4 linked regions of the Homo sapiens genome follow. The protein of the gene in region 2 interacts with the protein of the main gene of each other region in a pairwise test. Each region holds a gene or a part of one and is shown on either strand. Other genes may lie near its edges.

The links.
Region 1: the proteins of MARCHF8 (region 2) and TMEM14C interact in binary tests that used the Homo sapiens proteins (3 or more experiments, as listed by UniProt).
Region 3: the proteins of MARCHF8 (region 2) and FA2H interact in binary tests that used the Homo sapiens proteins (3 or more experiments, as listed by UniProt).
Region 4: the proteins of MARCHF8 (region 2) and ARR3 interact in binary tests that used the Homo sapiens proteins (3 or more experiments, as listed by UniProt).

The regions. Positions count from the first base shown.
Region 1 is NC_000006.12:10,726,064-10,731,649, forward strand, and holds the end of TMEM14C (transmembrane protein 14C), read left to right. Parts: intron 1-2,576; coding exon 2,577-2,664; intron 2,665-4,551; coding exon 4,552-4,603; 3' UTR 4,604-5,064; downstream 5,065-5,586. UniProt on the Homo sapiens protein: Required for normal heme biosynthesis.
Region 2 is NC_000010.11:45,525,364-45,532,391, reverse strand, and holds part of MARCHF8 (E3 ubiquitin-protein ligase MARCHF8), read left to right. Parts: intron 1-7,028. UniProt on the Homo sapiens protein: E3 ubiquitin-protein ligase that plays several important roles in innate immunity and adaptive immunity.
Region 3 is NC_000016.10:74,715,816-74,722,843, reverse strand, and holds part of FA2H (fatty acid 2-hydroxylase), read left to right. Parts: intron 1-3,683; coding exon 3,684-3,856; intron 3,857-4,270; coding exon of another isoform or gene 4,271-4,594; exon of another isoform or gene 4,595-6,244; coding exon 6,245-6,497; intron 6,498-7,028. UniProt on the Homo sapiens protein: Catalyzes the hydroxylation of free fatty acids at the C-2 position to produce 2-hydroxy fatty acids, which are building blocks of sphingolipids and glycosphingolipids common in neural tissue and epidermis.
Region 4 is NC_000023.11:70,263,427-70,271,351, forward strand, and holds the start of ARR3 (arrestin-C), read left to right. Parts: upstream 1-4,907; 5' UTR 4,908-4,946; intron 4,947-5,929; 5' UTR 5,930-5,959; coding exon 5,960-5,967; intron 5,968-6,235; coding exon 6,236-6,266; intron 6,267-6,416; coding exon 6,417-6,477; intron 6,478-6,649; coding exon of another isoform or gene 6,650-6,673; coding exon 6,674-6,718; intron 6,719-7,925. UniProt on the Homo sapiens protein: May play a role in an as yet undefined retina-specific signal transduction. Could bind to photoactivated-phosphorylated red/green opsins.

The sequences.
Region 1 (5,586 bases), on a different chromosome or scaffold from region 2:
CAAAAGACCCTGGTTTGGTGGGATGGGGTGAGTTCTTCACACTTCACTTACGACAATTTCACTGCTTCTACCAAGTCCTCAGAAAGTTTTAAAATGAGGGTGCAGAGGCAGGAATTATGCTGGTTTCTGTTTATCTTTTACATACAGAACATGGAAGGATTTTCATAGCTCGTGACTATATTTACCCAGTAGCATTAAAATTCTATCAGGCAAATGTATCAACCGTTGAGGTTGCCCACTGAAGACCTTTGGCTTCAGCATCACTAAACTATCACACGTCTGGGTTAGGTTTGCATCTGAATTGCGATTTCCCCATTTGAAAATCACCTCTTTAGCAGTTAGCTAAATGTGACTGCAGTGACTCACACCTGTAATCCCAGCACTTTGGGAGGCCGAGGCAAGTGGATTACAAGGTGAGAAGTTCGAGACCAGCCTGACCAACATGGTGAAACCCCATCTCTACTAAAAATACAAAAATTAGCTGGGGGTGGTGGCGGGTGCCTGTAGTCCCAGCTACTTGGGAGGCTGAGGCAGGAGAATCACTTGAACCTGGGAGGCAGAGATTGCAGTTGAGCTGAGATCACACCACTGCACTCCAGCCTGGGCGACAGAGCAAGACTCCATGTCAAAAAACAAAAAACATAGGCATAGAAGCAGGACTGGAAAGGTACCCTGTAAGCAGCACGGACAGTGAGTGGTGTGGGGGACCGAAGAGTCCTCCTTATCAGAGTGGCTTTCAGTACATTTCTGTGGGGCTCCACCCATGTGTCAGACACTGCTAGGAGTGTGGGTTCCTTGCGGTCTCTACAAACCCCGTGTGAGAATGAGTGCCATGTGGGAGGGAGAAGCCATGTGATCTGTACATATCAGCTGGGGTGGGGAAGGGAGGTCCGTGATGGCTAATGGGGTGTGCTGGGGAAGGAGGTGTGTCCAGGTCCCAGCTCTGCCTAACAGCTCCCTCCCTCATGCTCCAGAATGACTTGAGCCTGCATTTTCCCTTTCTCTGATGCTACTCTACTCAGCAAATGACCTCACGCCTATTGTAGGGAAAAAACAGCAGCCATCAGGTGGGGACTCCTGGAGCCTTTAATCTCCAAGCCTCCCCTCGTCCTGTTTCCCTCCTCTCCAACACCAGTGTCTTCCTCTGGGCTTTGGGTGTCTTCTCCCTGATCTTCTCCAGACCTTTACACTGGCCAGGATCCTGTCTTGTATTTGTATTCCTCCTTTTAGGTGGATCCCCGCATTGATATTCAGATGTGCTTGTCTCCTTCCCCTTCATAAACTTCCCTTTTTTTGAGATGGAGTCTCACATATTGCCCAGGCCAGAGTGTAGTGGCACAACCTTGGCTCACTGCAACCTCCACCTCCCAGATTCAAGCAATTCTCCTATCTCAGCCTTCTAGGTAGCTGGGATTCAGGCGTCCACCAACATGCCCGGCTAATTTTTCTATTTTTAGTAGAGACAGGAGTTTCGCCATGTTGTCCAGGCTGGTCTGTAACTCCTGACTTCAGGTTTGGGAGGCCAAGGAGGGTGGATTGCCTGAGCTCAGGAGTTTGAGACCACCGTAGGCAACGTGGTGAAACCCGGTCTCTAATTTAAAAAAAAAATTAGCCAGGCGTGGTGGCGGACGCCTGTAGTCCGAGTTACTCAGGAGGCTGAGACTTGAGAATTGCTTGATCCCAGGAGGTGGAGGTTGCAGTGAGCCAAGATCACGCCACTGCACTCTAGCCTGGGCGACAGATCAAGACTCTGTCTCAAAAATTAAAAAAAAAAATGTGACTCTGTTCATGTGTCCTTCTGCTTAGCATCCTTTAATAGCTTCTCATTGTTCTTACGATGAAAACCCAAACCCCAGTATGGCCTTCAAGGCTCCATGTGGTCTGGCACCTCTTACTCACAAACTGCATCTTGACTTCTGTGCCATGCTGCCCTTTTAGGGTGAATGTCCCATGCTCCCTGTCACCACAGGGCCTCTGCATATACTGTCCCCTCTGCCTGGAATGGGCCTTCCCATCCTTCAGCTCATTAATTCCTGCGTAATTTCAGATCTCAGCCAATCTTCACTTTTTTGTCTAAGCCTTTTTATTCGTGTGAGTCTTTAAAGTCTGTCCCATCAGACCTGAAGCACTGTAAAAGGGCAAAGACAGTTACAATAACCTTTGTATTCTCCAGCTCCTAGCACAGCACTTGACATGTAGTAGGTGCTTCGACAGATACCCAGTGGGAATTGTGTGCAGGGTAGAGGAAGTAGCGTCTGCAGGGCGTGAGAAACAGTAGCATTTTGGAGAAAACTAACATATTGATGGCTAAAGTGTGGGTTTTGCAGAAGACAAGTGGTAAGAGATGAAGCTGGAAGGGCAGGCAGGACCCAGGCTGTGAAGGGCCCTATTTGGCCAATATTGGTACTAGGACCCATAGGATGTGGGCAGTCAGTAGTCTCCCCGACTTGGGGAAAGAGGAATAAGCATAGGATGAGGCGTGAGCCTTGAGAGATGGGTGGGGCTTGGCCCACTTCTGATTCCCCTGCGTAGAAGATGTAATGAGTTTTAACACTTCTTTATATGTTTTTCATCAGCTACATCTGGTACCTTGGCTGGCATTATGGGAATGAGGTTCTACCACTCTGGAAAATTCATGCCTGCAGGTTTAATTGCAGGTGCCAGGTACTTTCATTCTATTACTCTTCTTTACCATGTAGAGTTCAGTTTATTCCCCAGGATACCTTATGCATTCAAAACCTTACTTGTTTCAGGATATCTGATGCTATGTATCAACTGACATTTGATATATACACTAATAGGAAATGTTTCAAAAACAATAGCTAGTTTAATGTCAAAATGGCATGAGTATATCCATTCACCGTGGAAATGGGTTTGTTCTCATATTTGCTTTCCAGTCCATCCAAACTCCTCCCTATATGGTGGCAGAAGTTTTAGTGCAAAGCCATGACTGCAGCCTTTTGTGTGACTTGCATGGAAGATTTGGGGGCCCCATATTTCTTAGATGTGTAGATGTCTTTTACAGAAAATTTTGCTAAAAGAGAATTTTGATTGAATCCTGTTTTCTATTTTTTGTTGTTGTTATTGAGACGGAGTATCACTCTGTCACCCAGGATGGAGTGCAATGGCGTGATCTCCGCTCACTGCAATCACCATCTGCCTCCCGGGTTCAAGCGATTCTCATGCCTCAGCCTCCGGAGTAGCTGGGATTACAGGCGTGCACCACCATGCCCAGCTATTTTTGTTGTTTTGGTAGAGATGGTGTTTCACCACATTGGCCAGGCTGGTCTGGAACTCCTGATCTTGTGATCCGCCCACTTCGGCCTCCCAAAGTGCTGGGATTACAGGCGTGACCCACTGCGGCTGGCCCTGTTTTCTAATTTTGATTATAAAACCTAAACCAAATTGTGGTTTTTAAAAAATTTAGTTGTGGCTGGGCACAGTGGTTCACACCTGTAATCCCAGCAATTTGGGAGGCAGAGGCAGGCGGATCACCTGATGTCAGGGGTTCAAGACCATCCTGGCCAACATTGCGAAACCCCGTCTCTATGAAAAATACAAAAATTAGCTGGTTATGGTAGTGGGCACTTGTAATCCCAGCTACTCGGAAGGCTGGGGCAGGGAGAATTGCTTCAACCTGGGAAGCGGAGATTACAGTGAGCTGAGATCATGCCACTGCACTCCAGCCTGGGGGACAGAGCAAGACTCCATCTCAAAAAACAAACAAACAAACAAACAAAACTTTAGTTGTAGGCCAGGTGTGGTGGCTCATGCCTACAATCCCAGCACTTTGGGAGGCCAGAGCGGGCGGATCACTTGAGGTCAGGAGTTCAAGACCAGTCTGCCCAACATGGTGAAACCCCATCTCTATGAAAAATACAAAAATTAGCCGGGCATGGTGGTGCACACCTGTAATCACAGCTACTTGGGACACTGAGTCAGGAAAATCTCTTGAACCTGGGAGACGGAGGTTGCAGTGAGCCGAAATTGTGCTGCTGAACTCCAGCCTGGGCAACAGAGGTGAGTGAGACTCCATCTGAAAAAATAAAAATAAAAAACCTTCTCAAAAACAAAAAATTTAGTTAAGTATCATAAAGACATCCTGAAGGTAGGGGAATTTTTAAAAATCTGTTTTGGAGAAAGATTACATACTCTGATCATAGTTGTGATGCTACCAGTATAATGTTTTATACCTGAAGCAAGGAAGTCAGTGTGGAGCAAGGTCTAGAGCAGTAAACTGAGACGCTGGAGAGTCTACCATTAATCAGATCTGTGATGGTGGGGAGGCCTTGCTCTCTCTTGCCTCCATTTCTTCATCTCTTCAAATTATTGGCAGTTGGGTTAGGATCCAGCTCATGTGTGCTATTTTAAGACTCCCTTGGCTTGCTTTTTCTCTGGTTCCTCCAGGGATGGAAATTTACCCCTGACCACTCTTGCCTTAGTACCTCCTCCCCCACGCAGTTGTGAGGAACCAGCAGTTTAGTTCCTTAAAAACATAGTTGCCTGTTCTGTCCTTTACCTGACATTTTCTATCTTGTTTCTTTTAAACAGTTTGCTGATGGTCGCCAAAGTTGGAGTTAGTATGTTCAACAGACCCCATTAGCAGAAGTCATGTTCCAGCTTAGACTGATGAAGAATTAAAAATCTGCATCTTCCACTATTTTCAATATATTAAGAGAAATAAGTGCAGCATTTTTGCATCTGACATTTTACCTAAAAAAAAAGACACCAAACTTGGCAGAGAGGTGGAAAATCAGTCATGATTACAAACCTACAGAGGTGGCGAGTATGTAACACAAGAGCTTAATAAGACCCTCATAGAGCTTGATTCTTGTATATTGATGTTGTCTTTTCTTTCTGTATCTGTAGGTAAATCTCAAGGGTAAAATGTTAGGTGTCAGCTTTCAGGGCTCTGAAACCCCATTCCCTGCTCTGAGGAACAGTGTGAAAAAAAGTCTTTTAGGAGATTTACAATATCTGTTCTTTTGCTCATCTTAGACCACAGACTGACTTTGAAATTATGTTAAGTGAAATATCAATGAAAATAAAGTTTACTATAAATAATATTTCCTATGGGGTCTTCATTGCCAGAGCTGTCTAGTTCATAGAATGAGATATTGCTAGCAGCAAGATATAGAAACATGAAAGTATTTTGTTAATATTTAGAAATTACCTATTTTGAATAACTTAAGGACCAAGGAAACTTATTTGATTGTACATTGCATTGAAGCTTGTTTCAAAAATGACCTCTGAGGATTTTTTTTGTTTTTCAAGAGACAAGGTCTTTCTCTGTTGCCTAGGCTGGAGGGCAGTGGTGCAATCATATGTCACTGTAGCCTCAAACTCTTGGGTTCAGTCATCCCACCTCAGCCTCCTGAATAGCTGGTACTACTGGTGCATACCACCACACCCAGCTAATGTACTTTTTTTTTTTTTGGAGATGCAGTCTTGCTCTGTTGCCCAGGCTGGTCTCAAACTCCTGGTCTCAAGTGATCCTCTCGCTTTGGCCTCCCAAAATGTACTGGAGTAATAAGCATGACCTACTGTACCTGGCCACTGAGGTTTTCTTCTTTTTTTTTTTTTTTT
Region 2 (7,028 bases):
TAGTCCATAATAGTGTGTACATGGGGAAGCTATACAAACTTGTTTGGAATAGAAAAAGGAAAATGTCCAACAGTTAGGCCAGGAAGGGAGATTCTTTTTGATATACACCCTCACTGCAGGTTTACTGTAGGTGGTTATTTAATAAAGCCTTATTGAATTTATCTATTTGATGGGATTTTTAAGGTCTAAATAAATAGCATTAATCAATTATTTGTAGAATGGGGATTTTTATTGGTATTGGGAAGAAAGAGAAACCATTCTGTCTTACCTTAGTGTGGGGATGGTTTGAACACCCAGTGGCAGCCTGACAGTTCAGGGTGTCGTGGAGCCCAGATGAGGTGGCAGTAGTGGAAGAGCAGTTGAACCAGGAACTTGCAGGGCCCCGTGAGAGCTTCAGCAGCAATGGCACAGGATGAAAATAGTGGTTGTGTTTCTAGGGTCTCAATTGTGGTATCAGGTTTGATTTGAAAGGTAAATTTTTGTCCAGTGGAGCCCATTTTTATTTATGCAGTTTTTCCTGGCACAGGTTCAACCCAAAATCTTTTGCTATGATTTCTGATCCTCCTGTGCTTGGGAGATATTATTCCTACTGAGTCCCATAAGAAGAGTGAACCCTTGCATTTTACCTAGACTCAAATAATCCACCTGTTTGCTTAGTCTAATCTGTTAACACACCCTCGCTGAAGCCCATAACTTCTACAGAGGGTTAATGACTTTTATACAGTACTCAATACAGTTGATGAATGAATGAATGAGTGAATATGAATTCAGTTTCAGTGATATGGGTCATGTCACTGTGGAGATGATCTTTTATTTCAAATACAGTATGAGAACCTTACAATAGTATACTTTCATTTCTTTCCTTCTGGCCTTTTCATTATTGTCTTTTAATAAATTTTAAACCCTAGAATATATTTAAAAAAATACTTTCTCTTTAAATACTTTTCTTTTAAATAATAATAAAGATCTGTTTACTCAGATAATTACCATTTCTGGTGTATTTCCATCTATCATTTTTCTTTTGTCTAAAGGACTTTAGCATTTCTTATAATGTGAGTTGGCTGACAATGACTTCTTTCAGCTTTATTTAAAAAATATTTTTTATTTGTTTCTTGTATTCTGAAGTTGTGCTTGTGGATCAGTGGGTTTACAATTTTCATAGAATTTGGAGCTTTTTGGCTATTCTTCAGATACTTTTTCTGTCCCCCCATTCTTTCTTTGGGGACTCCAGTATACACATTGACTGGCTTAAAGTTGTCCACTGCTGCACTTTTAATTTTTTAAGGTTATTTTTTCTTTCTGCATTTTATTTTGGATATTCCAATTACTTTGTTTATAATTTCATTAATATTTTCTTTTTCAATATCTAATCTGCCAGTAATTCCGTCTAGTGTGTTTTTCATCTCAGACATGTTTTATCACTAGACATTTGTTTTGGATCTTTTTTATATCTTCCATGTCTCTATGCAACTTTTTTAGTATATGAAATAACAGCTATAATGACAGTTTTAGTCCTCTTTTCTGTCATTGTTGGCATGTGTGACTATTCTGAGTTTGCTTTTCTCCCTCACTTCGGTCAGTTTTATTTTCATTTTTGTTATTATTTTTTACTTATTTTTGAGTACAGATCTTGCTCTGTTGCCCAGGCTAGCATACAGTGGCGTGATCACAGCATACCGCAGCCACGAACTCCTGGGCTCAAATGATCCTCCTGCCTCAACCTCCCAAGTAGCTGGCACTATAGACCATGCCTGGATAAGTTTTTCTTTCATTTTGTAGAGTCGGGGTCTTGCTATTGCCCAGGCTGGTCTCAAACTCCTGGGCTTAAGCAATCCTCCCATCTTGGCCTCCCAAATTGCTGGGACTGCAAGTGTGAGCCACTGCACCTGGCCCAGTTTCATTTTTAAGTAAAAGTTTATTTCAGACTAGTTTTAGATTTACAGAAAAATTGTTAAGCTAGGATGGAGTATTTTCATATACCTGACACCCAGTTTCTCATATTGTTATTATTTATAGATTTAGTACAAGTGCAGTGTTGTTACACCACCTGAATAGTGCACATAAGCACCCATGAGGTAATTTCTCATCCCTCACCCACTCCCATCCTCCCACCTTTCTGAGTCTCCAATGTTATTATTCCACTCTCTATGCCCCTGTGTACATATTTTTCAGCTCCCACCTGTAAGTGAGAATATGTGATATTTGACTTGCTCTTTCTGAGTTATTTCACTTAAGATAGTTACCTCCAGTTCTATCCATGTTGCTACAAAAAAACATGAATTCATTCTTTTTTTATAGCTGAGTAGTATTCCATGATGTGGATTACTTTATCCAATCATCCGTTGATGGGCACTTAGATTGATTTTATGTCTTTGCTATTGTGAGTAGTCCTGCAATAAATATTTGAGTACAGGTATCTTTTTGATATAATGATTTCTTTCCCTTTGCGTAGATCCCCAGTAGTGGGATCACTGGATCAAATGGTATTTCTATTAGTTCTTTGAGAAGTCTCCATATTGTTTTCCATAGCAGCTGTACTAGTTTACACTCCCAACAACAGTCTGTGAGCATTCCCTTTTATCTGCATCCTTGCCAACATCTGTTATTGATTTTTTTGACACCTGAGTAATAGCCATTCTGACTGGTGTGAAATGGTATTTCATCGCTTTTATTTGCATTTCTAACTTTTTAAATGTTTCTTGGCCATTTGTATGTCATCTTTTGCAAAATATGTGTTCATGCCCTTTGCCCATTTTTTAAAAAGGTTATTTTTTTCTTGTTGAGTTCTTTGTAGAGTCTACAAATTAGCTTTTTGTAAGATGCATAGTCTGCAGATATTTTCTCCTGTTCTGTAGATTGTCTGTTTTCTCTGTTGATTATTTATTTGCTGTGTAGAAGCTTTTTATTTTAATTAAGTCCCATTTGTCTATTTTCATTTTTGTAGCTTTCCTTTTGAGGTCCTAGGCATGAATTCTTTGCCTTAGGCCAATGTCCAGAAGAGTTTTTCCTAGGTTTTCTTCTAGAATCTTTATAGTTTCAGATCTTTCAGGTCTTTATACTTTCAGGTCTTTAATCCATCTTAAGTTGATTTTTGTATATGGTGAGAGATATGGGTCCAGTGTCATTCTACTGTATATGGTTACCCAATTCTCCCAAGTATCATGTATAGAATAGGGTGTTCTTCCACTAGTGTATGTTTTTGTTGACTTTGAAGAAGATCATTTGCCTGTAGGCATGTGTCTTTAATTTGGGTTCTGTAAGCTGTTTCATTGACCTGTGTGTCTCTTTTTATAATAGTTTTGGTTGTTATAGCCTTATAGTACAATTTGAAGTCAAGTAATTTGATGCCTCAAGTATTGTTCTTTTTGCTTACCATTGCTTTGGCCATTCAGGCTCTTTTCTGGTTCCTTGGGTATTTTAGGATTGTTTTTTCTAATATTGTGAAAAACAATGTTAGTATTTTTATAGGAATTGCATCTGCAGATTTCTTTGAGTAGTATGGTCATTTTAATGATACTGATTCTTCTAACCCATGATCATGTTTGTGTCATATGTGATTTCTTTCGTCAGCGTTTTGTAGTTTTTCTTGTAGAGATCTTTCACATCCTTGGTTGAGTGTATTTCTGAGTATTTTATTATTTTTTTGTAGCTATTGTAAATGGGATTGACTTCTTGGTTTGGTTCTTGATTTGGTTCTCAGCTTGATTATATCATTGTTGTATAGAAATGCTACTGATTCCTCCTCACAACAAAAAATACAAAAATTAGCTGGGTGTGGTGGCACGTGCCTGTAAGTCCCAGCGACTTGGGATGCTGAGGTGGGAGGATCACTTGAGCCCAGGAGGTCGAGGCTGCGCTAAGCTATGACTGCGCCACTGTGCTCCAGCCTGGGTAACAGAGTGAGACCGTTTCAAAAACAAACAAAGAAACAAACCCCAACTAAACAAAAGAAATACTACTGATTTTGTAGGTCGATTTTGTATCCTGAAACTCTACTGAATTAATTTATCAAATTTACGAGTGTTTTGGAGGAGTCTTAGGGTTTTCCAGGTATAAAATTATATCAGCAAACAGAGATAGTTTAACTTCCTCTTTTACAATTTAGATGTCTTTTCTTTCTTTCTATTGCATTACTGCTCTGGCCCGATAGGACTTTTAGTACTGTGTTGAGTAGGAGTGGTAAGAGTGGGGATCCTTGTCTTCTTCCATTTCTTAAGGGGAATGCTTTCAACCTTTCCCCATTCAGTATGATGTTGGCTGTGGGATTCTTGTATATGGGTTTTATTATTTTGAGGTATGTTCCTACTACACCAAGTTGTTGAGTGGTTTTTATCATGAAAGAATGCTGAATTTTATCAAATGCTTTTTCTGTATCTATCGAGATAATATGGTTTTTGTTTTTAATCCTGTTTATGTGGCAGATCACATTTATTGATTTTTGTATGTTAAACCCTACTTGTATCCCTGGAATATAACCCACTTGATTGTGGTGTACCATGTTTTTTGATGTGCTGTTGGATTTGGTTTGCTAGTATTTTCTTGAGCGTTTTTGCATCTGTGTTCATTAGGGGTACTGATTGATTCTGTTTCTGTTTTTGTGTGTCCTTGCTTGGATTTGGTGTTAGGGTGATACTGGCTTCAGTTAGAGAGGATTTTCTTCAATTTGGGGGAACAGTGTTGTCAATAGGATTGGTACCTATTCTTCTATGTCTGGTAGAATTTGGCTGTGAATTCATCTGCTTCTGGGGTTTTTTGTTGTTGGGAGATTTTTTTTTATTTTTATTACTGGTTAAGTCTTACTGGTTATTGGTCTCTTCAGGCTTTCTCTTTCTTAGTTCATTCTTGAGAGGTTGTGTGTCTTTAGGAATTTACCTGTTTCATCTAGGTTTTCTAGTTCGTTAGTGTAGAGATGTTCATGGTAGACTCTGATGATCTTTTGTATTTCTGTGGTATCATTTGTAGTGTCTTTTTCATTTCTGATTGTGCTTATTTGAATTTTCTTTCTTCTTGGTTAATGTAGCTAGTAGGCTGTCAATTTTGTTTATCTTTTCAGTGAAGCAACTTTTTGTTTCTTTATCTTTTGGGTTTTTATGATCTGGATTTCATTTAGTTCTGCTCTTCATCATTTCTTTTCTTCTGGGTTTGGTTTGTTCTTGTTTTTCTAGTTCCTTGAGGTACTATGTCAGGTTAACTTGTGGTCTTTCTATTTTTTTCGATTTAGGCATTTAACGCTATAAACTTTTCTTTCTTGAATCCATTTACAGTCAACACTATAAGCTTTTGCTGTATTCCAGAGGTTTTGGTATGTTGTGTCTCTACTTTTGTTTAAAAAATTTTTAAACTTCCATCTTAATTTCATCACTGACCCAAAAATCATTCAAGAGCAGGTTAATTTCCATGTATTTGTATAGATTTGAGAGTCCTTCTTGGAATTGACTTTAGGTTTTTTCCACTGTAGTCTGAGAAGACAACTTGAAATGATTTCAGTTTTTTAAAAATTTATTGAGACTTGCTTCATTCCTTAAGATAAGGTCTGTCTTGGAAAATGTTCCACATGCTAATAAGAAGAATGTATATTCTGTGATTGTTGGGTAGCTTGTTATATAAACATCTGTTAGGTCTATTTGTTCTACAGTCCAATTTAAATCCAGTGGGGTTTTTTTTTTCTTTTTTTTTCTGTCTCAGTGGTCTGTCTAGTGCTGTCAGTGGGGTGTTGAAGTCCCCTCTTGTGCTATAAAGGAATGCCCAAGGCTGGGTAATTTATAAATAAGAGATTTTATTTGGCTCACTATTCTGCAGACTGTACAAGAAGCACAGTGGTTGTGTAAAAGTGCCTGGCCTCCTCTCTTCAGCCTGGCTTGTTGGCTGGTAGCAGCAGCTGCTCAGGGCTCGGAAGCCTGTGTACTCCCATGTGAGTTTGAGCAATGCCTCTGTCAATCTCCAGGCAACTCACTCTATTAGGCTGGAGACCTGCGAGGGTCAAGGGGGTCTCCCACAGCTAGCGTTGCAAAAGTCCATGGTGGGAATGTGGAGCCCTGGGAGTCTCTCATCTACCCTTTCCCAGCATCTAGAAGCTTCTTTCATCTCTCAGCAATCCTGGCTGAGCACGTGCCTTGCTTCCTTCTCCTTTGTGATCAGTGATTCCTGTTGCTTTTCAGTTGAATTCCAGTGTTCTGTTTTAGATGACCTATTTGAAGGGTGAATATCTACTCGCCGTTTTGGAGCTTTCCATGGAAGAGGCATGTACTAGCTGCATCTAGTTAGCCATCTTGAACCAAGCTTCCAGTTTCTCATATTATTAACATCTTAAAATAGTGTGCTGCATTCATCATAGTTAGTGAACTAATATGAATACATTATAGTTTTAAAGTCCATGCTTTATTCAGATTTCCCTACTTTTTAACTAATGTCCTTTTTGTGTTCCAGGATCTCATCTCTAGGATGTAGCATATTACATTTTGTTGTTGTATCTCCTTAGGCTCCTCTTGGCTATGACAGTTTCTCAGACTTCCCTTGTTTTAGATTACCTTGACAGTTTTGAAGAATACTGATCAGGTATTTTGTGGAATGTCCTTCTATGGGAATTGTCTGATATTTTTCTCATGACTAGACTAGGGTTATAGGTTTTGGGATGGAAGTCCACAGATACAATGTACCAGTTCATCACAACAGATCGAGTATACTATCAACATGATTTATGACTGATTTTCTTGACCACCTGGCTGATATAGTGACTATCAGGTCTCTCCACTATAAAGTTACTCTTTTTCTCCCCTTTTGTACTTCATTCTTTGGAAGGAAGTCACTAGGCATAGCCCACTTTAAAGAATGGGGAGTTGTGCTCCCCCTCCTTGAAGGTGGAGTCTTTACATGAATTATCTGGAATTCTTCTACATGTCTGGAACCCAAATTGCAAGATTGTCCAAAAAATACATTTTTCAATTTTCTGCCCTGTCCTCCTTGATAAAGGGATCCTGAAAGAAATGATCTGTATCCCAGGATTCCTGAAAGGTGATAAGTAAGAAGGT
Region 3 (7,028 bases), on a different chromosome or scaffold from region 2:
TGCCTCTCGGGTTCAAGCGATTCTCCTGCCTCAGCCTCCCAGGTAACTGGGATTACAGGCATGCACCACCATGACCGGCTAATTTTTGTATTTTTAGAGACGGAAGTTTCTCCATGTTGGTCAGGCTGGTCTCGAACTCCTGACCTCAGCTGATCCGCCCACCTCAGCCTCCCAAAGTGCTGCAATTACAGGCATGAGCCACTGCATCCGGCCCAGAAGACAGATTTTTAAGGACTTGACAAGCCAATGGGAAGTGGCAAAGTGGAGCCATGAGTCCAACCTACGTTTTCTTTTCTTTTTTTCTTTTTGAGACAGGGTCTTGCTCTGTCATCCAGGCTGGAGTGCAATGGTGCAATCACAGCTCACTGCAGGCTTGAACTGCTGGGCTCAAGTGATCCCCCTGCCTCAGCCTCCTCAGTAGCTGGGACTATAGGCATGAGCCACCATGCCCAGCTAATTTTTTTACTTTTTGTTGAGGCGGGGTCTCACTGTGTTGCCCAGGCTGGCCTCAAACTCCTGGGCTCAAACGATCCTCCCACCTCAGCCTCTCAAAGTGCTGGGATTACAGGCATGAGCCCCCATGTTCAGCCTAGCCTGACTTTTTAGGAGCCTTGATGATGAAGGGGCTGAGTCCATGATGGGAAAGTCTTGCCTACCTCAGAAAGATGAGCAGAAGAGCCAGGAGAAAAGGAGAGACTGAAGGAGCCCAGAGGAGTCCCTTGGGAGGGAGGGTGGGAGGAGGCGGCTGAGGGCTTTGCACTGCCGAGCAGGGGGAGCCTGGCAAGTCATGGACTTTGGGCCTCCACGTCCTCAATCATGCAGGCAATGCAGGGCTTCCCTTGTAAGGCTGTGGTGAGATGAAATAGGAAGTAATCCATGGAAGGCCCTTGGGCGGTGCCTGGCACACAGGAATCAGTCAGGACACATCTGCCGTTACTGTTGCTCTGATCATCCAGCGCCCGCGTGCCGGTGCACACCTCTTCCCTGAGAAGCAAGGAGGATGCGCCAGGGTACCGGCAGAATGTGGTGTGCTTGGAAGTTGGGGGAAGTATGTGGAGGGGATAGTTCCTCCCCAACCCCAGGGCCTCTCTTCTCTGTGAAGTAGGAAGCTGGGTGGAAGGAGAGGCAGTAAAGGGGAGTAGAGCGTGTTCAAGGGCAGTGGGGAGGGAGCTGAACTTGAAGATGCACAGGGATCATCCATCAGGCTGTGTCTAGGGTCTTGCAGAGGTTAAAGGTGCCAGACCCACAGCTGTGTGAGTCTCCATGCTCAGCAGCTTGGGTATGGGGTACAAAGGCAGGTTCCTGCGCTGACCCAGGGGTGAGGGTTCATGGGTGCAGGTGAGGGAGATGGAGTAAGGGTTAAAAGAGAACGGCTAGGCCAAGCATGATGGCTCACTCCTGTAATCCCAGCCCTTTGGGAGGCCAAGGTGGGTGGATCATTTGAGGTCAGGAGCTCAAGACCAGCCTGACCAACATGTTGAAACTCTGTCTCTACTAAAAATACAAAAATTAGTTGGGCATGGTGGCGCACACCTATAATCCCAGCTACCCGGGAGGCTGAGGCAGGAGAATCACTTGAACCCGTGAGGTGGAGGCTGCAGTGAGCCGAGATCGTCCCATTGCACTCCAGCCTGGGTGACAAGAGCGAAACTCTGCCTCACAAAAAAAAAAGAGAGAGAGAATGGCTAGCTTTGGAAAACAGTCTGGCTATTCTTCAAAAGGTTAAACATAGAGTTATGATATGAACCAACAGTACCACTCCTGGGCTTGTACCCAAGAGAAAGGACAACATCTTTTCACACTGAAACCTCTACACGAATGTGCATAGCAGCACTATTCACAATAGCCAAGAGCTACAAACAGCCCAGGTGTCCCTCAACTGATGGATGGATGAATAAAGTTTGAATATCATTCAGTCTTAAAAAGGAATGGAGTTGTAATACATGTTACAACATGGGTGAATGTTGAACATATTCGGTAAGAGAAGCCGGTCATAAAAGACCATATGTCATATGATTCAATTGACGTGAAATGTCCAGAATAGGCAAATCCAACAAAGAGGAAGTAGACCTGTAGCTTCCTAGGGTTGGGAGGGTCTGAGAAGAAATGGGGAGTGGCTGCTAATGGGTACAGGGGCTTGGCGGGGAAGTGATAAAAATGTTGTAAAATTGACTGGGGTGACGGTTTAACAACTTTGTGAGTGTACTAAAAAGCACTGAATTATATATTTTATTTGGATGAATTATATGGATGTGAATTAGATTTAGATAAAGCCGTTAAGAAGAGAGAAGATATGGCCAAAGCTATGGTTTGTAGAGAAAAGAAACAAAGATAAGAGGATGAGGATGGGCTGGGCACGGTGGCTCATATCTGTAATCCCAGCACTTTGGGAGGCTGAGGAGGGCAGATCACTTGAGGTCAGGATTTCAAGACCAGCCTGGATAATATGGTGAAACCCCCTCTCTACTAAAAATATAAAAATTAGCCAGGTGTGGTGGCACACACCTGTAATCCCGGCTACTCAGGAGACTGAGGCAGGAGAATCACTTGAACCCGGGAGGTGGAGGTTGCAGTGAGCTGAGATCACACCACTGCACTCCAGCCTAGGCAACAGAGCAAGACTCTATCTCACAAAAAAAAAAAAAAAAAAAAAAAAAAAAAAAGGATGAGGATGAATATATGGAGCAAACAGGAATGAGAGCTGAAATCTCCATGAGGTCAAAGAATGAATGAGGTGGAGGAAAGAGCTGAAAGCCGCTAGGACTGCAGGCTGTCTCCGGAGGGTGGTGGGAAGCATGTGCTTGAAGATGGTGCCCTGTCTCCAGTCTTCTCCTCTCCACCTAGGCTGATCATCTTCAGTGTTTTCACATCTTCCTCCTGTGCTATGATTTCAGGTCTTGTCTGTTGAGATCTCGGTGCTTGTTTTTTCTTGTCCTTCCTGCCCCATGGTCCCTGGTGGGTCACACTTCCCATCATTAACACCCTGGAGGCCAGGCACAGTGGCTCCCTTCTGTTATCTCAGCACTTTGGGAGGCCAAGGCGAGAGAATTGCTTGAGTCTGGGAGTTTGAGACCAGCCTGGGCAACATAGCAAGATCTCGTCTCTACAAAAAAAATAAAAATAAAAAATAAATTTAAAATTAGCTGGGTGCGGTGGCATGCACCTGTGGTCCCAGCTACTTGAGAAGCTGAGGTGGAAGGATCGCTTGAGCCCAGGAAGGGAAGGCTGCAGTAAGCTGTAATCACACCACTGCCCTCCAGCACTCCAGCACTCCAGTCTTCCAACCTGGGCGACACAGAGATACCTTGTCTCAAGATAATAATAACAACGCCCTGGCTCAGGAGTGTCGCCTTCTCTTCTCCAATGTCCTTGGGGCAAGGTCACCCTTCCAGGTAAAGGCCCAGCCCCAGCCACAGCCACTCCTCCCACAGCCTCTGTAAGGAGGATGTCAGGCCTCCAGCCAGTGGCCCATCACTCCTGTAAAGGACTTCCCAGACCCAGACCAGAGTCCTACAGCCTCCTTCCCATTTTGACTCAAGGACCCCAGCAGTATGGCCTGGCCCTGTAGCTGTCCAACAGAGGGCAGCAGCTCCCGAGCTGATGGGGATGGTGAGGCAGGGACACCTGGAGCTACCAGGCTGCTATGCACCGGTCCTCACCTCGCTCTCCCTGCCACCCTGCAGAGTACACGGTGGCAGTGCCCAAGTCCATGTTCCCCGGGCTCTTCATGCTGGGGACATTCCTCTGGAGCCTCATCGAGTACCTCATCCACCGCTTCCTGTTCCACATGAAGCCCCCCAGCGACAGCTATTACCTCATCATGCTGCACTTCGTCATGCACGGCCAGCACCACAAGGTGAGCGGGGCGGGGTCCCAGCCCGGACCTAGCATGTGCAGCCCGAGAGGGCCCGGCAGCCAGCCGCAGCTTCAGGTGCTGCGGAGCCTCCTGGGAGTCTGGCTGTGGGTTGGGAGGGACGGGACGTTTGATGTGACTCACGGGGCAACTGGGTTGGGCATCCGAACCTAAGCCAGGCGGGGACAGCGTGGGTGTGCAGCATCAAGCTGACCCCAGGCCCTCTGCACCCTTGTTTACGCATCACCTTTAATCCTCAAAACAACTCATTCATTCGTTCATTCATTCAGCAAATGCCCAGTGAGTGCCTCCTGTGTGCGAGACACTGTTCTAGACATCATTGAACAAAACAACAAAAAGCCTTGCGCTCCTGGAGCTTGTGCTGAAAACAGCCCCATGGTTCTCCCCGTTCCACAGAGCAGGAGACTGAGGCCTAGGAGGACTAAGGAACTTGCCCCAGGTCACACTTGGCACAGCCAGGATGTCGTACCCCATTCTGGGGATTCCAGAGTCTGCGCTCTCAATCACCCTTCCCCTGAGGCCCTTCAAGGACTCCACGACAGTCCCAGAAGCTGGCCCGAGAAGATAGGTCTGCCCAAAGGAAGCTACCTCCCCTGTACCCCCCGCTGCTTCTCTGTCCCTGCATTGTGCTGTCCTTGGCCCATCCCAGGCTGTTCCCCAGCCCGTCTCCACACTCTGTTCTCTGCTGGGCATAAATCAGAGAAAATATGGCAGATATGATACTTTCGGGACACCAGTTTAGACCCTGATGTCGCTGATACTGAACGTGGGTTTCACCTTGGTTTCCCAGCAGCAACTTAATCCGGTTCATCTCGATGAGCCGATTCGGGGTTTGATCGGCCGCCTGGGACAGTTCTCAGGTTGGTTGGCTGTGGTCCTCCCGGCTCTCCCCAGAGTTGATCTGCATCCTAGGGGGCTTTCCTAGGGGCCAGTATCAGGGTGGGTGCCCAGTCCTGGGCCAACCTGTCTCTCAGGTATGCTCTCAGAGGTAGCGCAGCCCAGGCCTGGCCTGTGTCCTCCAGCCTCACCTGGCCTCTGCTCTGCAGAGCTCACTGCATCTGCTTCTGTGTCCCTTGCCCTGTTTGTGAAGCCTTTTCAGATCCACTGCCCTGTCCGCTATCTTTCCCATCCACAGGGGACACCAGAACCTTCTGGGAACCTGCTCAGGCCATTCTGGGGCCCCAGGGGCTGTCTCAGGCTCCCTCTTTTGAGACACTTCCACCCCAGTCTGTCCAGTCCCCTGCTGCCACACCATGAGGACCCGAGGAGACTGTATGGCCTGTAGCCACGTGGGCTCCAATCAGGAACGTGTTCTCAGATCCCCAGACCTATCCATCTAAGGATCCTGATCCAGCTGTGACCCGGATCTGGCCCATACCAGCTCACAAGAGCACCCATGCACATCCTTTCCTGTTTCTGTTCCAGTGACGCCACCTCAGCGCTTGAAAGCGCCAGGGCAGTTTTCACACTGCAGGAATTGGCAAACACTACCAATCAGGGCTCTCCCTCCCTCCCTTTATTTCCCCCTCCCTCATTCCCCAGCTCTCTCCCTTCCTCCTTTTCCTGAGAGCTGGTTTTCCAGCACATCACTGGTCCTGTTGTTCCTGGTCTGAAGGGAGGGAGGCCCACGCCAGCATCTCATTGTGTCACTGTCACCTGCTTTCTCTCTCTCTCCTCCAGCCCAGAGAGGCTGCAGGATTCTCTTCTCAGACTCCTCACCAAGCCATAGCTAAGATCTCACCTCTATGCCAGGCCCTTGGCTTCTGAAGCTCGAGGGCCACGGTGAAGCGGTGTTCTCTGGTTCACTGTGGCGACACCCCCTTGGAACAAAAAAGGCCTCCTGTTTGGACATGGGGGTGGGGAGGACACCTCTAGTGACACTTCCGGGTCATCCCGCCACAGAGGCTGCATTAACCTCAGTTGCCCTCAGTGCCTTGCTCTCCCAGACAACATCAGGCCTCAGTCTAGGTGCCCTGTCTCCAGAATGCCCCTCTAGCCAGGGGCACGGCATTTAGGGATGGGATACCTGTCTAGCACCTGACAAATTCCAGAGTCACAGTGGCCTCTATAAGATGGGCTCTGAGCCGCCAGCACACCCCACCCATCCTGCCCATCCTGCCCATCCCGCCCATCCCATGTTCCTTTGCAATCTGCCAGGTCCCTTCCTGGCTCACAAATGGGAAGTAAGACAGTCTCTCCAGATCTTCCAGACGTGGTGGCCCGCCCTCCCCAAAGCCACCAAAGGTGCCAAGCCTACGCAGTGGAATGTCTGGGCCGCTGTGCCCCTGTCCTCTGCAGGGAGTGGCCAGGGTTTGGCCAGCTGCCGGGGCCCCTGGCTGCCTCCTGATGCCCAAGCCTCTCCATCTGCAGGCACCCTTCGACGGCTCCCGCCTGGTCTTCCCCCCTGTGCCAGCCTCCCTGGTGATCGGCGTCTTCTACTTGTGCATGCAGCTCATCCTGCCCGAGGCAGTAGGGGGCACTGTGTTTGCGGGGGGCCTCCTGGGCTACGTCCTCTATGACATGACCCATTACTACCTGCACTTTGGCTCGCCGCACAAGGGCTCCTACCTGTACAGCCTGAAGGCCCACCACGTCAAGCACCACTTTGCACATCAGAAGTCAGGTGAGGATGGGCCTGTGCTTCCCAGCCCCCTATGTGTGTTCATTGATTTATTTGCCAACTACCATCGAGCTCCTGGGAACGGCAAGGCACTGTTCCATGTACGGGGCATATACAGAGGGTTCCCTCTACTCTCTTCCCTGGTGCAGACAGCTGTGCAGAGACAGGCAAGGACATCAATAAATGGCAAAGATTTCAAACTGTGATAAATGCCATAAAGAAAATAAAGGGGCTGGGTGTGGTGGCTCACACCTGTAATCCCAGCCGAGGGGATTGGGAAGCCGAGGCAGGTAGATCACTTGAGGTCAGGAGTTTGGGACCAGCCTGGCCAACATGGTGAAACCTGTCTCCACTAGAAATACAAAAATTAGCGGGGTGTGGTTGTGCCCACCTATAATCTCAGCTACTTGGGAGGCTGAGGCATGAGAATAGCTTGAATCCAGGAGGCAGAAGCTACAGTGAGCTAAGATTGCACCACTGCACTCCAGCCTGGGCAACAGAGCAAGGCTCTGTCTATAAAAAAAAAAAAAAAAA
Region 4 (7,925 bases), on a different chromosome or scaffold from region 2:
AAAGATCCTCTCCTCTCCTCTCTCCTCTCCTCTCCTCTCCTCTCTCTCCCTCTCCACCATCTCTCTCCCCCTACCCCCACCCTCTCTTCCCCTTCTCTCTTGGAACATCCACTCTCATGATTTCAACTATGACTCAGAGGTTATCAAAAATTGTAATGGCCAAGAGACTCCAGCATACAGATCTCTCTCTAATCAAAATGCATCTCTCCTTCTCTCACACTCTTATCACATTTGATTTCTACAGAGATGGCACATACCACAGGCAGCCTAGAATTATACTCATTTGTGTTTTTGGCCATCTCCTCCTGATCCTCCCACCCCCATACCAGAACCAGAGCTCCTTGAGAACATGTACCTCATTTTACCTCTGTCTTTCCCATAGCCTTCCAGGTAAAGTTATTATAACATATGTTCTAGATATTTCCTTTCAAATTATATTCTCTGCTGTCCCCCAAAAAATGCCTTCCAATTCAGAGTTAAGAAAACAAGTACCTTCCACATAGTACATGTTCAATAATAGTTGTTGAGTGAATGAATGACTTAATTATAATTTGTTGAACTGAATGGTTCCCACATCTATAATCTAAGCCCTATATATGTTGTTTGCTATAGGACACACACACTTGGGTATCTCATTGATGTCTGGAATTTAGTATGCAGGAAAAGTTTACTATTTTTTCCCTGACAGAGATAAATAAGATGTACAAATACCATTATTGCTGACACCCTTCCATTGCCCTACTCCTCCAGTTTGTTCCAGTCCTCTCCCTCCTGGCCCTTCACATCTAATATTCGTAATTGTCTTGATGACAGTTTCTTTGCAAGGTTTGCTGTTTCCTTGGGGCTTTAAGAAGGAAAGGGGGAAGAGGCATGATTTCTAATCTCTTTATCTGAGTTAGGAGGAAAGGAACGAAGGAAGGGAGAGAAGGAGGGAAGGAGGGAGGGAGGGGAGAAAGGAGGAATAAAGGTAGGAAGGGAGGGAGAGGGAAGAAAATGAGGGAGGGAAGGTAAGTGATATAGTGGAAAAAATGCAGGCTTGGAGTCAGACAGACCTAGGGTTGAACTCTGGCTCCATCGCCTGCCGGCTATGACTATGGATAAGTCTTTCTGAACCTCCATTTCCTCATATGTAGAATGAGGATGCTAGCACCTAGCTTGTTGTGAGAAGACAATGAAGCAATGCATGTAAGGAACCCAGCAGAGTGCCCTCATTGTCGTTATTGAGAATTAAAGTATACGTGTATTTGGAAGGTGTGAGGTCCACTCCAATTGGCTGAATTTTCTTTATGAAGTGAACAAATGGAATTACCTGCTGAGAGTAAGTGGAACACGAAAGTCACTCAATCTCAATGGAAAGGAGTAGTGATCTGAAGCCCTGGATGTCTAAACTTACTAATAAAATCATTGGGAAGTGACTGGCTTCACATAGTTGTACACAAGTTAACTTTGTCCATATGTATTCTCTGTAGTGTGCCCTTTTTGTCTTTCTACATGTCCAACTTTATCTCCAGCAAGGCTGTTAACAACCTTAGAGTGGAGACCAGGACTAGTTTGTTCAGCACCTAGGACAGCACAGGAAATCTGTTTCTGCGATTTAATCCATCTATCTCCGTTCCGTCCTCCCCCACTGAGCTAATGCCTCATCCACATCCCACTTGAATCTTTTGCTATGTTTTCAGTTGCAATAACAGAAAATCCCAACTTAGATGACTGTTTTTAAAAAAGGAAATATATTATCTTGCATATAAGTTCAGTAGTGGGTGGCTTTGGAGCTGATTAATTCAGCAGTTCAACAATGTCATTAAAAAATCCTGATTCTTTCCATCTTTCTGATTTGCAAACCTCAGCATGTTATTTAGCAACTTTCATGGTCACAAGGTGGCTATTGCCGGTCAGGCATTGTTTCCAGACATGGCAATATTCAATGGTAAAAGAGGAAGGCCTCTTCCTGTATGCTTATTTTTATCATTCAAGAAAACTTTCCCAGAATCTCTCCAGCATACCTCCTCTCACATCACAGTGGCCTGAATTTCACCATGCCTATAACTAGGCTGATCACTGGCAAGGGGGATAAAACGACCATGACTGGCATAGAGGAGCACAGACTCATGCGGAGGAGGATGAATTACCTTAAAAATGGGGATTCTTTCCACAAGGAGGAAGAGGGAGATGACTATTGAGTTGGTAAGCAATTCTGTCTGCTACAACCTTTTACTGAATAACCCACTCCTTCCTCATGCAGACATCTGATCATCATTTTCTAACTGGAAGGTCTGGTTGGGGATATCATCCGGGTGTACAGAATGAGGGTGGGTAAGGACCTAAAAATATTTCTTCCACCCATGTATTATAGGGGCCAGAAACTCCATTAGCTATGCATTCCTTTGCCTACTTACTGTTGCATCCTTGTAAAATGCAAGTATTCCAGGTCAAAGCAAAACTGGTGACAGTTCTCTTTGGGAAGCTACTAACTGGAAAGAGGCACAAAGAAATTTTCTGGGGGGATGGAAATGTTCTATATCTTAACCTGGGTGGTCGTTATATGCGCGTTTACGCAGGTGTATTAGTTTCCTATGGATGCTGTAATAAATTACCACAGACTTGGTGACTTAAAACAATGCACAGTTCTTCTCTTACAGTTCTGGAGGTCAGAAGTCCAAAATCAGTTTCAATGGACCAAAATCAAGGTTTCAGCAGGGCCATGCCTGAGCAGGAACAGCCATCTTGCAGCCATGAGAGACTTTAGGGGAGAATCGATTTCTTTGTCTTTTCCAGTTTCTAGAGCTGTATTCCTTGCATTCCTTAGCTCATGGCCCCTTCCTCCGTCTTCAAAGCCAGCAGCCTAACATCTTGCTTCAGGCCTCATATTTCCTCCTATCTCAGAGTCAAAACTCTCTCTGCCCCTCTCTCATAAAGAGACTGGTGATTACATTAGGGCCCACCTGGATAATCCAGAATGATCTCCCTATTTCAACATCCTTAATTTATTCACATCTGCAAAGTCTCTTTTTCATATAAGGTAATGTTCATCGGTTCCCAGGATTAAGACCTGACATCTTTGGGGGCATAATTCAGCTTGCCACAGTAGGTAAAAATTCATTGAGCTGCAGTTAAGATTTGTGAATTTTACCTCAGTCAAGAAATGCACAAACTTCTGGAAAAGAGTAATGATTTACATTCCATCATAATAATGAATTAAAGACCTAGCAGATCTACTCTTTTCCTACCGAGAGGCCCATGGATCTGAGTAGAAAGAGAAGATAAGCGGGATTGAGTACCTAAAAGGGAGGTAGGAGCCTCGAGTGTGGGTCTAAAGACAAAAACAGGCTGACCACTAGTCATTCTAGAGATCTGGGAAAGGTTTCCTGAATGATGAAAATAAGCATACAAGAAGAGAGGCCTTCCTTTCCTGCCATTGAATATTGCCATGTCTGGCATGAAAAGTAGATTCATTCTGACTTTTCGCCTTCCTCGCAGACACCAACCTTGGCATGTATACAAATCTTTCCTGTATGTCCAGCATCAGTTCCTATCCCACTGTGGTACCTGCAGAATCTGGGCTTCTTGCACTATCTGAAAGCCCCTGAGAAGGAGAGAGTTATAGTAACTAAACAACCAGGCCCTGAGATGCATATTGGCTAGGAATGGCAGGGGCTGACACTGTGAACTGTGCAAAGAGAATATGGGACAGCTGTCCAGGGCCCTCAGTGAGGGGCAGGAGTTAGGGAAGGCCCTGCCCAGCCCTCTGAGCCATAGCCATAGCCATCCTCTGAGGAATGGACACCCCATTGTGGGGGTTGGGGTTGAGGGCTGTGTCTATAGATAACTACTAATGTCCAGACTGCTGTAAGGGGAGGTGAAGGAGGTCAGAGTCCTGAAACCCCAGAGCTTATAGATTCTGTCTCTACATTTTCTATGCCCGTGAAGCCTGAGCCTAGGCCCTGTGGGAAGGACAGTCAAGAAAGGAAGATTACTTTGTTGTTGCTGTTGTGGGGGTCCTGGCAGCTGAAGAGACAGAAATATCTCTAATTCCATGAGCGGTCATACGAGGCAAGAGAAGCTGCTTAGAGCATGGACTTAGTTAGTTTCAGGGATTGGACAGAGTCAAGAGCTGGGGTGAGGAGGTTTACCCTCGGTAGGGGTGACACAGATGTCAACCGCCTATTCCCTCCACATGCATGTCCTGCCAGAAGAACCTGTCCCTGGGCTGGGAATCTTATATTACCTTCCTCTCCAATGAGAAGAGAAGTTCAAGGCTCACAGACATGTGCATACACAGCTCAATGCACTCAGATCCCCCTCCACCACTCCTGCCCCCACTACCTACAGGAGATTGACTCCTGCTGTGCACATAAGCTGGGATAATCAGGGTTTCTAAACATCAGCTTCAAAAGTCCAATGTCCCAAAGTGGTGGGGGGCTGGGGACGAGGTACTCTTTCCCATACCCTTGGCTTTTGTGTGGCCTGGAGCCGCTGATATAGAGATTGGAGTGGGACACGAGGTATTCCTTTCAAAAACACAAAGGCCTATACTTTGAGCCCTCCCATTTCAATCCCCCACCATGCTTCACCTTTAAGACCTCCAACTCCACTTTGATCCCAGTTCTCAGGTTCAAGGCCTCACAAGGCCAAAATCCTGAAGTTACCCTTCTCAAACTCCCTTGCCTTTAACATCATCAGAATCAACCTCCTACCCCCACTCTGTCCCAGCAGCAATAGCCTGCTAATCTTTTAGCCACTAATCTTTTAGGCACTAATCTGCTTTCCAAACTCTTGGCACCTGAACTATTTATAGCAGTGTTTTATGCCCCCCCACCAAGAACCCTATTCTTTTCCCATGACCCCCACCAATCAAAACACTCAGAGGACTGTGGGTATAAGAGGCTGGGGAGGCAGGCATAGCAACCAGAGCTGGAGACTGATGTGAACTTCATCTCTCTCCCCAGGTAATATTCCAAAGCCCTCTACTTCTAGCCCATACTAAGCCCTATATCCCTTGCTCTTAGCATCCCTCTTAATATATCAGGCAGCAGTTGAGGGACACCCTTCCTGACATAGCCTATAGACATTCAGGCCTAGAGACCCTCCAAAGACCTCTGGAAGCTCCCCTAAGCTCACCCCCTGGGCCAGGCTCAGTAAGCATCAAAGGAAAGCACTAGAGAGACATCTCCCTCTCTCTAAGGATTCCCATCCAAAGGCCTAGCCCCTGGGGACCTGGATGGGGATAAGGATGGGAAAATCTAGGAAAGGCAATGAGAGGGATGAGTTGGTTCAAGGAGGACTTTCAACCTCCATAGAGACTTCTGTCACCAAAAACTGAGAGCATGAAGGCACCAACCCCTTCTCTCTCACACTTTTCTCCCTTCTTTGTTGAGAGTCAAGGGCATCATGAGGTGAACTCAGGTTCAGGATCCATTGCAGGAGCAGAAGGAGACAGAATCCATTGATTTGTCCATTCATTCATTCATTCATTCATTCATTCATGTATCCAACAAACATGTCTTGGCACCTAGTGTGTGCCAGGGGATGTCTAGCCTCATACAGACCAAGAAACACATTTTTCTCACACTTTTCTGGATGGAAGCCTCTGTCCAGCCTCTTTCCAGAGAAGTTCCTTCTCTCTCAGGGTTCTCAAGAGTTCCCCAGCCATTCTAGGAAGTTTGGCCCTTTCTGGAGAATACATAGTATGGTTAGTCAATGATTTGTACAAAATAGGAAGGTTTTTTTCCCCTCTTGCCCAAGATGGGCAAGAATATGGCTGAAGAAGTACCCTTGGCAGAAGGGAGAATAGGAGGTACTTGATGTGGGTGAGGTGTCTGTCTAAGGAGGAAAGGTTACATCACACTAGGTGTATATGGATGGTATGCTGGAGTGGGGTGAGAAGAATAGAAATGAAATGATTGAGCCTTTCTTCTTTCCCTTTTCCCAGAAAAGGCTCAACATCAACTATATAGCCAACATGTCCAAGTAAGAATTCCTTCTAATCCTCTGAACCTGTGAATTGCTCCCTACCCCAATCCAAGTATTTCCCTTTGGGGTAGGGGGATTTCCAATTTCTCCCTAACTTGTGTCCTTGGATTCTACCCCAATTATCCCTACCTTTGCCCCATCCTATGCTCCTGGAGCCTCTTCTCCTAATCCTAAGAATATTTCTTTTTCTCCCCAATTCCCTTATTTCCTCTTCCCTGCACTTCCAATCCCCCTCTCCATCCTCTTTCTGGTTTTCTCCTCATAGGGTGTTTAAGAAGACCAGCTCCAATGGGAAGGTGAGAGAACCTGGCCCAGCTGGGCAAATGAGAGGGCAAAAGGGATAGGTGGGTACATCCTTCAAGGTCTCAGGGGTCTGGGTTGGGGGTTTCAGGGGAATCCATTCAAAAATGATTGTGAGAATAACATGGGAAGTTGTTCCACAACAGCTCTCCATCTACCTGGGGAAACGGGACTTCGTGGACCATGTGGACACGGTGGAACCCATTGGTCAGTGAGTCCAAAAAAGGGAAGCCTGGGGAAAGAGGAATGGAAACTAGGGAGTAAAAGAAAGTCCAGGAAAGACCGTGCAGAAAAGGAGGCAAATTAAAGGGAAGAATAGGAAGAACCATTTCAGGGATCATCCTCTGTTTCATAGTCTGAGAGTTTTTCCTGACCAAAGTGCTGTCTGTCCTTCTCTCCACAGACGGTGTTGTCCTGGTTGATCCTGAGTACTTAAAATGTCGAAAGTGTAAGTGGAAATCCTTGTTGGTCTTTGTATGTTTCAGACAGGTAACCCGATGAGTGGATTGCACCAGAGTACAACAAAACCAGAAAGTGGCAGGAACTGCGAATGCCTTCTCTGGTGGAGGCTGACAACTGGGAATTCCAGCCCAGTGTGGCCAAATTTTCTAATTGTTAATGAGGAGCTGTAAACGAAGCTCAAAATAAGACTTTTAGAGGCCCAAAGTGTGAAAAGATTATGGTGCCCCCTTACCCAAATAATATTCAAAGTAAATATCTAAAGCATAAATTAAATTTTATTTTTCAAAATTACACAAAACTTACACTTGTGCTGAAATTAAAATAGCTTCTTTCAGAATTTCAGATTTTCTCTATTATTACTGGTGGTGCCCCTGCTTGGCTATTGATCTGGATCTTAGACTGCCTATAGAATGATCCAGTAAGTCAGAAATCCATATTTTAAGGCAAATTTCCTGATTTTCAAATGTCAGCAACTCACTAAAAGACTTTAGAAGCCTGGATAGATTATAAACTTTTTTTTTTTTTCTGTTGGCTAGATGTGACTTTCAGGCTGTCATTTTGTAACCTCTGGTATACGTCTTTCCATCTCCTTTTTTTGTGTAGGGAAACTGGCTGACCTTTTATTCAAGAAAAAAAAATCCCAAACAAAGAAACAAAACAACAACCATAGGAAGTAACACTAAGAAACATTACTCTGGCAGCAGTATTACAGATCAAGATTATGCTGATTTTTTTTTTTTGCTGCTTTTTTTCCTTTTAATTCTCACTATGGATTAACCCCACTGTGATCCAACTAGACTGAAAATTGGGTTTGATTTGAAAAAGGCTCTGAATGGGTTGATGAATACTAGTTCAGATGTAACTGTTAGATATTGGAGAATAAAGTAGCCTAAATCTCTCAGATTAAGCAGTGTAAATAAGCAATCAAATCGGTTTTAAGTATCAGAGGAACTTTGGGATAGACTCATAAATTAACCAACTTATTTAAGGTTCCCAAGTATTCTATATTTCTAAAACCTAAATCATTTTTTCACATTTCTACAAAATCTTCACAAGCTATGGAAAGAAATCTTTAGTTAAAAATATATGTTGTTCCAGGAAGAGATGCATTTTTCCTTTTATTCTAATCTTCTTTTATGTCCCCTTAGTAGAGTTTTATATTACTTTTCATTTAAGTTGTGCATATTTCTTGT